Regions from separate parts of the Homo sapiens genome. Here region 2 is linked to region 1. Evidence: fine-mapped expression QTL. A gene starts in region 1. The other region holds a variant in brackets. All regions are shown on one strand. Distances are between the middles of the regions.

Evidence for each region. PIP is the estimated chance that this variant, and not a neighbour inherited with it, causes the effect.
Region 2: its variant is the best candidate, but not a certain one, in a credible set for the expression of MOB3C in whole blood (GTEx, PIP 0.57).

Annotation. Positions count from the first base shown.
Region 1 is chr1:46,614,273-46,618,662 of GRCh38, reverse strand. It overlaps MOB3C (MOB kinase activator 3C), which reads left to right and starts at 1,852. Exons shown (of 4, transcript NM_201403.3): 1 at 1,852-1,952. RefSeq lists a silencer at 1,678-1,957 and an enhancer at 2,358-2,427.
Region 2 is chr1:46,590,966-46,595,355 of GRCh38, reverse strand. MKNK1 (MAPK interacting serine/threonine kinase 1) reads left to right here. Exons shown (of 13, transcript NM_001135553.4): 2 at 1,076-1,243. Among named protein-coding and RNA genes, the nearest start is that of MKNK1, 11 kb to the left of the region's middle. The variant G/A (reference allele first, on the strand shown) is at 2,165.

The sequences.
Region 1 (4,390 bases):
TGTGTGGTTTCCCTACACCTTGACCATACCTGTAAATAATGTCTTCATTAAACATACCCATTCTGGGTGTTCCATGTGCTTCCTGCAAATACCCCGACTCTTACAAAGTCCGTCAGTCCACAACCACATTCTCACTTCTGGGTGACTGAGCTGTGACCTTGTGTATCTCTGTGTGTTGTCCCCTTTACTGACCTGTCAGCACCTGAGGTCGGCAACCAGGTCAGCTTTATCACCCAGTCCCCTGATCTGATATGAGTGGAGAGTTATACTCAATAAAAGATATTGATTAGGATATCAAATAAATAAAGAAGCATAGTTTAATTTGCTCCATAAGCAAGTGTTTGTTTATAGGGGATTCAGGGCAGAGAGTTAAGAGTCAGACATAAAAATACAGAGAACTTTAGACTGGGGCAAAAATTGGTGCTCAACAAAAGAACATACCCACAGTTCTATGAGCTGGGATTCTTTCTTTACTTTTATTTTAGGTTCAAGGGTACATGTGTAGGTTTGTTATATAAGTAAACTCTGTGTCATGGGGATTTGGTGTACAGATAATTTCATCACCGAGGTAAGCAGCATAGTACCTGATGGGTATTTTTGTCTCATCCTCCCTCCTCCCGCCCTCCACTCCCAAGCAGGCCCCAGTGTCTGCTGTTCCCCTCCTAGTATCTATGTATTCTCATTGTTTAGCTCCTACTTGTAAGTGAGAATATGCAGTATTTGGTTTTCTATTCCTGTGTTAGTCTGCTTAGGATAATGGCCTCCAGCTCCAGCCCATGTTGCTGCAAAGGATATGATCTGGGTTAAGGATCTAGCGTGTTCTCATGTCATCCAGCAACAGAAGGTCCAGACACAAGGGAGGTCCAGTGTGCCATGGTAAATGCCCACCTCTGGCCTCCAGCTCTCCCCTACCCGCATCTACTCACCTCCCACCCCTCCAGAGTGGCTTCTATGGCTAAGCTCTCTGCTTTGGGCTTCCTACCCTAGAAAGCCTCCAATCTTCCCTCCCATCCCAGACAGAGCAGCCAACTGGTCCCTGGGCCTGGGGGCCACGGTGTGCATTGAATGCTGGTGGGATATCTGTCTGTCCTCGAAGGAACCCAGGTGGTAGGGAGAGCAGATCAGATCTTGAGTGGTTTGGATTTGTCAGAAGGAAGGAGGGAGAGAAGGTATTCTAAAATGGAACAGCTGGGATAAGGGTCTGGAGATAAGAAATGGGGTGACTCTGGGTAAGGAGCAAGGAGAATCAGCCCAACCTGAGCCAGGCCCCCTCCCTGGTGAGGAGATGAAGTTTGTGATTTGAGCGCTCTTCTGGGGCTTGTCCCTCAGGGGTGAAGGACTCAGCTCATGATTCCCAAGGCGTTCATTTATTCCTTCACTCACCCATTCATTCATTCATCAAGTGGGTTTTGAGTTCCTGCTATGTGCCAGGAGCTGAGGATATGGGAGTGGATAGGACGGTCCCGATCCCTTATTGGGTCCCGGGACAAGTGTGACGCAGACGATTCTAGGAGGGCAAAGAAACCACCCTTATCTAGCAGCTCTTGTTTCTGCTCCAGAAGAAGCCGAGCGTTTTCCCATTTTACTGTCTGGGAACTTGAGGCTGCCTCCTTGGTGGAGGTCCAAGGAAGCACCGAGAGGGCGGGCAGCTCAGTTAGTCCTTTGTCCAAGGGGAAGCTGGGAGCCCCATATGGACTTTCCGGGAAGGTGGGGGCGAGTGCGTCTGTGTACTGGAGTGGAGGGGAGTCCCCTTTCTCCGCCCCTCCCCGCCCCGTGGCCGCGGCGTGGCGGGGCCGGGGCGGAGCTGGCGTCGCCCGGGGCAGGAGGGCAGCCGCGGCCGGCAGGACAGGCAGACGGACAGGCTGACAGGAGAGAGAACAGGCACTGCGGGACCTGCAGGAGAAAGGCGATCCTGTGGCTGGGAATGTGACCCCACGGCCAGAAGAGGACCCGTGAGTGTGCGCCGTGCCCCTGCGGCCTCGCCGCGCACCCCGCCCGCCTGGCTTCCACTTTCATTTCTTCGGCCGTCCTGGCGTGGCACAGTCCGGAGGAGAGTCCCGCCCGAAGGCAGGCTGGCCGCTGTCCTGAGGCTGGCGTCCGAGGCTCAGAGCTTCGAAAGTTGCGGGGGGGATTGTCGGGGTGGGGGAGTACGGGGCAGAGGGGAGGGGTTGGGGGGCGTGTTTTCGGGGAGCGGAAATGTCAGGCGGGCTCCTCTGGGTCCTACGACCTTCCTGGCCCTGGGAGCTGGTTTGAGGTTGCAGGGAAGCCGGGGGTGGGCGTGGGTGGCTGCGCGCCGCGAGGAGAGCGTGGAGTCTTCGCCTCTACTTTTTCTCTTCGACCTCTGTCCTAGAGAGAGTCCCAGGATGGATTCTGGGTTCAAACTGGGGCCATCCTCTGGCCCAGATCCTGGGCCAGGCCCAAGGAGTGGTAGATGTAGCCTAGCAGGGGGCTAAATATCAGAAACAGGTAGGGTCAGCCTGCTGTCTTCATTTGAGAAGCCCAGATCCGCACCCAGGGAACGAGCAAGGCACTGCCACTCCAGGAGTGAAAGGATAGCCATCACTGGGAAATGGGGGCTAGGACGGGGAACGGCAGTGGTTCAGGGAGAGACAGAGGTTCTGTGACAGATAGAAACTCAGTGAGGGCATGGGGGTGGGGAGTGAAGGGAGTTAACCCTGTGGCTAGAAGAGCACCTGCCCTGCACCCACCCCCTGAGCTTACATTTTCCTGGAAAGAGACCCAGGCCTTGAAGTTCCACAGGAGTAAGGTGGAACTCTAGCTCACTGGTCAGGACACCCCAGTTGCTGTGCGGAGTCAGTGTGTTGGGGACAGGAAGCAGGTTGGGCTGTTTGGTGGAGAAGATGCTTCCACTGTCCCTCCACTCCCCTCCTCTTCTCTGTCTCCACCAGACCATTGATGAGCCAGTGCAGGAAAATGGTCTTTTACTCTTGGTCATGAGCTGAGCCCCACCTTATCCCAGTTCCCAGTTCTGCTTGTAACTTGCTATGTGGACACAGGCTCCTCAAGTCCTCTTTTTAGGCCTCAGTTTCCTCATCTGGGCCTCAGTTTCCCCATCTGTACAAGTGAGTTGGGCCAGCTGATCTATCAGGGCTATTTTAACTCTAAGATTCTAGTCTAAGCTTTCCTTAAAGCCTGAACACTGACTTTGTGCCAGGCCTTGTCCTAAGCTGGGGGTGGGTTGGGGATGGAGTGGAGACTGCAATGACCAAAAGCAGCCTCTACCCAAGGAGAAGGAGATCTGAGTTCAGGAGAGGAGGCTGTGGGAGGAGGTAGCAGCCAATCTGAGGATGTGTGGTCAGGCAGGTGGAGGGATAAGAAAACATGCAGAGGCAAAAGAGTGGGGGCGTGTTCAGGAATCAGGAAGAAGCCCAGGGTGGTTGGTGTGGGGAGGTGGGAAGTGGGGCAGGAAAGGTAGGACAAGGTGCTGAATGCCAGGGTGGGGGCCTATTTCTAACTGTCATAAAGGGGGCCATGCAATGTGGGGAGCCCAGGAGCCCCGCCTAATTGCAGTGTGAGGGATTTTGGAAGCACTTGCCCCAAGCAGAGTTTAAAATGGAGATGGCAAATGAAGCGCAGAAATCTCTTTGCTCTGGAAACTGGGGTCCCACCCTGGGGACTTCTTTGGGTGAGAAGTCGAAGAGTCGGGATGGATGAGATGACCTTTCACATCTGTGAGTTTTTTTCAAGAGAACAAGTTCCTGCTGAATGGCCTGTTTCTACTCTCCAAGCTGCTCTCATTTTACCAGACTGCCCCCATCCTGGCCTGCCTTTGTGGGTTCAAGGAAGGACCTTTGTCTCAAACAGCTCCCCAGCTAGTTTGACTTCTTGCCAGAAGTAATACCCCTCCCCGAAATATGTGCCATCCCTTTGCTTTTACCCAGGTGTCACCTGGTTCCCACCCTCCCTTCCCCAATCCTGTCCCAGGGTTACCAGAGATGTGAGAAAGGACAGTGCTCCAGCGTCAGAGGTCAAGCCCAGGCTTTGGCCATAAGCAAGCCTCAGGGTAGGGCTAAAGGCTAGAGTCAGGGCTCACACTTGCCAGAGCCCAGGTCAGAGGTCAGCCAGGAACCAGAATGCAATTCTTAGCTTATACTCAGCCTTAGTGCTCAGTCTAGGGGCAGGGGCAGTGTGCTTAGTGGGTGGCTAAATTCTAGTTTTGGTAGGTACATGGGTCTGCATTTCCCAGTAGCTCACACACTCACAGTTGAGATGAGATGACTCAGGTCTTAGAAACCTAGCTATAGCAGAGTGACCCAGGACCTGGATGGGCTAAATCCATGGTGATACAGGGGTCACCCAGTAAGCCAGTGGTAGAGCTGGGACTAGAACCCAGGACTCCTGCCTCTGAGCCTAGGGCCCTGATCACTGT
Region 2 (4,390 bases), 23 kb after region 1:
CAACTTCCAGTTAGAAAGCCTTTTTAGAAATTTTGGCTCAGAATTCAGAGTTAAACTGCATTTTCAGGGCTTTTCCACCGAGAAAAGGGGAAATGCATATTTATTTCATAGGGAAGTTGACAAAGCAACTTTGACTTGTATAGCTAGAGCCATGGTATTAAAATAACAGTGAACATAGAGAAAATGAAGTCATCAGATTGAAAACTAGCAATAATTATGTATTCGACACAAAACCTTGTTCCCATTCATGCCACCTCCTGCTCTCAGCATCTACTTTATCTTTCGGGCTCTGTTTCCTCTTGCCTGTGAGACTTGGACTTGGCCACTAAGAGAGAGAGCCCAGCTCATTTCTCTAAAAACGTGGATAGCAGAGGAGTGCCTCGCTCTGTCACCCAGGTTGGAGTGCAGTGGCATGATCTTGGGTCATTGCAGCCTCGACCTCCTGGGCTCAAGCAATCCTCCCACCTCAGCCTCCCAAGCAGCTACAGGTGTGTGCCACCATGCCTGGCTAATTTTAGTATTTTTGTAGGGATGGGTTTCACCATGTTGCCCAGGCTGGTCTTGAACTTCTGAGCTCAGTCAATCCACCTGCCTCAGCCTCCCAAAGTGCTGAGATTACAGGCATGAGCCACCACACCTGGCCTGTCAACTTTTATCTTTTGCCTGAGACTCCTCAGAGCAGAGGTGTCTTATCTCTATCATCCAGGTCCAGTTACATCTTTTTGGGTCTGGAATCCCATAATGGAAACAGAATCTGAAAAATTTCACTCAGACCTTTGTTAAATCTTCCAGTGCTTAATGGCAGTGGGGATAGAGAGGAATTAGAAGCCACCCCTTCCCAAATAATCATTGCTAATAATTTGGCCAGCCTGGGCAACATAACAAGACTCTATCTCTACAAAAAATTTAATTCAAATGTCTGATTTTAAAGATGGGAAACCTGTGATTGCTGCGTGTATATCTACTTAGTGGGGTAACTCATAGGTTTGGGGCACGTTCAGATTGATCTTTCTCTTTTCTGGTCCTTTTAAAGAAGTCAGCATTTTGATTTCCTTTCTATTTCTGCTTTTTCAAGGTTTCCATGTCAGAGGCCGATGGAGAACTGAAGATTGCCACCTACGCACAAAGGCCATTGAGACACTTCGTGTAGCTGGAAGACACCAACTTCCTGACAGGAGCTTTATTTCATTTGGGATTTCAAGTTTACAGATGGTATCTTCTCAAAAGTTGGAAAAACCTATAGGTAAGATTGGGTGTACATTTTAGTTATCCTTTTAGATTACTTCAAATTGAAATGATCTGATACATCCAGAGGAAAGGGCGGGTAAGAGACCGTGGTTTTCAGCACTTAGTTAGTTAGCTAGGAATAGCGGAGCTGCCCTGGTACGACTCAGATAACGCTTAGTAGGAGGAACACATTTCTACAGAATGACATGGAAGGGTCATAAGGAAAACATGTAACTAAAACATATTTATTTACTTTTTTTTTTTTTTTTTTTTCAGATAGAGTCTCCCTCTGTCGCCCAGGCTGGAGTGCAGTGGTGCAATCTCCGCTCACGGCAACCTCTGCCTCCCAGGTTCAAGCGATTCTCCTGCCTCAGCTTCCTGAGTAGCTGGGATTACAGGCGTGCACCACCACACCCAGCTAATTTTTGTTTTTAGTAGAGACGGGTTTCATCATGTTAGCCAGGCTGGCCTCAAACTCCTGACCTCAAGTGATCTGCCTGCCTTGGCCTCTCAAAGTGCTGGGATTACAGGCATGAGCCACTGCGCCTGGCCAGATCTATTTAATTATGAAATTAAAACAACTACTTCATAACAAAACAAGATAAAATACAGCAGAAGTATATGAAGCCCCTCTTTGCCTGGCTCCATACTAGGCAGCGGGGATAGAGAGGAATTAGACACTGTCCCTCCCCAAATAACCATTGCTAATAATTTGGCCAGCCTGGGCAACATAGCAAGACTGTCTCTACAAAGAATTTAAAAACTGGCCAAGCATGGTGGTACACGCCTGTAGTGCCAGCTACTTGGGAGGCTGAGGCAAGAGGATTGCTTGAACCCGGGAGGCGGAGGCTGCAGTGAGCCGAGATTGTGCCACTGCACTCCAGCCTGGATGACAGAGCGAGACCGTAGCTCAAAACATAATAATAATTTGAGATGT[G/A]TCTTTTCAGGTTTTTTTTAACGTATATATGATATATATGATGACATTTTGAAGTGTTCTGTGTTACACTGTCACCAGAGGTTTTGTCATGCCTGGGAGATTATGAATAATGCCTCATTTGCAGATTTGGGTCAGATGAGGGCTGAGTGAGAGTGGTTTTAGCCTGATCGGTGAGTTTTCATAGTCCCTGGTGGCTGTGTGTCACCCTTCTTCATCTGAAGGTCCCCGGTGGTGCCATTGTCTTTCCCTGCTCCCCGTCCCCAGCCAGCTCCACTTCCTGAATTTTCCCCCTGTTTGATGGTCCTACTGTTGTTATGGTGACCTGACTTTGGTTAATAAACATGTAATCATAAGTATATGAGGCCCTCCTCTTCCTGGCTGCATGCTAGGCAGTGGGGATACAGAGGAATTAAACACTGTCCCTTCCTTCAAGGAGGGCTGTGGTCTTTGCCCCCACCTTCTTCAGTCATTTGGTAGGACTAGAACCAGTTCTGCCTCGATGACTTCATTCCCTCACTCTGTTACACACCTCACCTCCTCTTCCTTGCTCTCCCTGCTCTCCCTGTCTCTGTTGTAGGCCTTTCTCACCCTGCCCCGGGCTGTTCCAGCAGCCTCTTTCAGCCCTCTTGCTCTAGCCTCCAGTTTGTTCTTCACATCACAGTCAGTTCCGTGGCCCCCAGGCACAGCTCCAGTCACACCCAGTCCCTCCCCATCACCTAGGCCAGTGGTTCGCAGCATACACTGCAGACCATGGGGGTCCCCAAAACTCCTTTAGGAATCTGCACAGTTAAAATGATTTTTGTAATCGTACTAAGATGCTGTCTGTTGCTGGAAAGCAACAATGAGTAAGACTGTTGGTGCCTTGGTCAAGGTGGTGATGCTGAACTGTGCCAGTAGCCACTATATTCTCCACTGCTATGTACTCCCAGGTTTTTGTTTTTGTTTTTATTTTGAGATAGAGTCTCACTTTGTCACCCAGGCTGGACTACAACAGCATGACCTCGGCTCACTGCAACCTCCGCCTCCCGGGTTCAAGTGATTCTCCTGCTTCAGTCTCCTGAGTAACTGAGATTAGAGACACCTGCCACCACAACCAGCTAATTTTTGTATTTTTAATAGAGACAGAGTTTTGCCATGTTGGCCAGGCTGGGCTCGAACTCCTGAACTCAGGTGGTCTGCCCACCTCAGCCTCGCAAAGTGCTGGGATTACAGGCATGAGCCATCACACCCAGCTTTTTTTTAATGCCATTTTCACACAAGAATGTCTTTGATGAAGTAGCAAAAATTGTCAGTTTTATTGAATTCCAACCCTGAGTACGGATCTCTTTAATATTCTGTGTAACAAAATAGAAATGCTCATAAAGTACTTCTGCGGCAAACCAAAGTATAGCACCTGACTCAAGGAAAAGCAAGGAAAAGCACATGTGGGATCCCTTGAATGGCAAGTGAAACTAGCCACTAGTTTCATTTTTACATGAAACAATGGCTGTGTTGGGTGCTGAGGCTGGAAGGTAGACAGGGGCTTGGGGTTGGAGAGCCTCGTGGGCTGCGTTTGTGCTTGGGGGCCTTGAGCGCAGCCCACCTTTGTCAGCTTTCTACACGCTGCTCCCCACTCCCATCCAGCCCTTTCCTCCTGCTTGCTCTTTCTTCAGCACACACTTCATTCTCCCCTTCCATGTCCTTCCTCTTGTTCCTTCCACCAGGAGATGCAGTGACAGCTCTGAAGGCTGCCTGTGATCCCAGAATCAGAACAGAGGTAGAAGATGGACTGGAGTTGTGACCTTTTGTCTCTAGGACTCTCAGGCCCCCAGTCCTGTCTGAGGCCTGTGGGGGATCCTTTGCTGGCACCCTAGCAGGCCTCACCTGCCAGTTTCATTGCAGCGGAGTGAAATGCTGCCACCTGCATGCTGCAGCCCAGCCTCCCCTCACACCAGACTCTTGGGGAAAGAATACCTTAGCCCCTTGCAGTATCGCTATGGACAGACGGTCCTTTGATTGAGCTGACTTTACAAGTGGCTCCTTTCATCCATCATGTGTTAAATCTGACTAGTGTCTGTTTGAGTGTACCCTTTCCTTGTCCCAGCATAATCATGATGCCACAAAACCAAATCTTCCCACTAATGGGTCAGACAGAAGAACGTAGCCTGTCCCTGACACCAGAACTGCCATGAAATAATGTAGGTGGACTTTGGTTGGTAGCTCATCTTTCATAAGATGACAAAACAC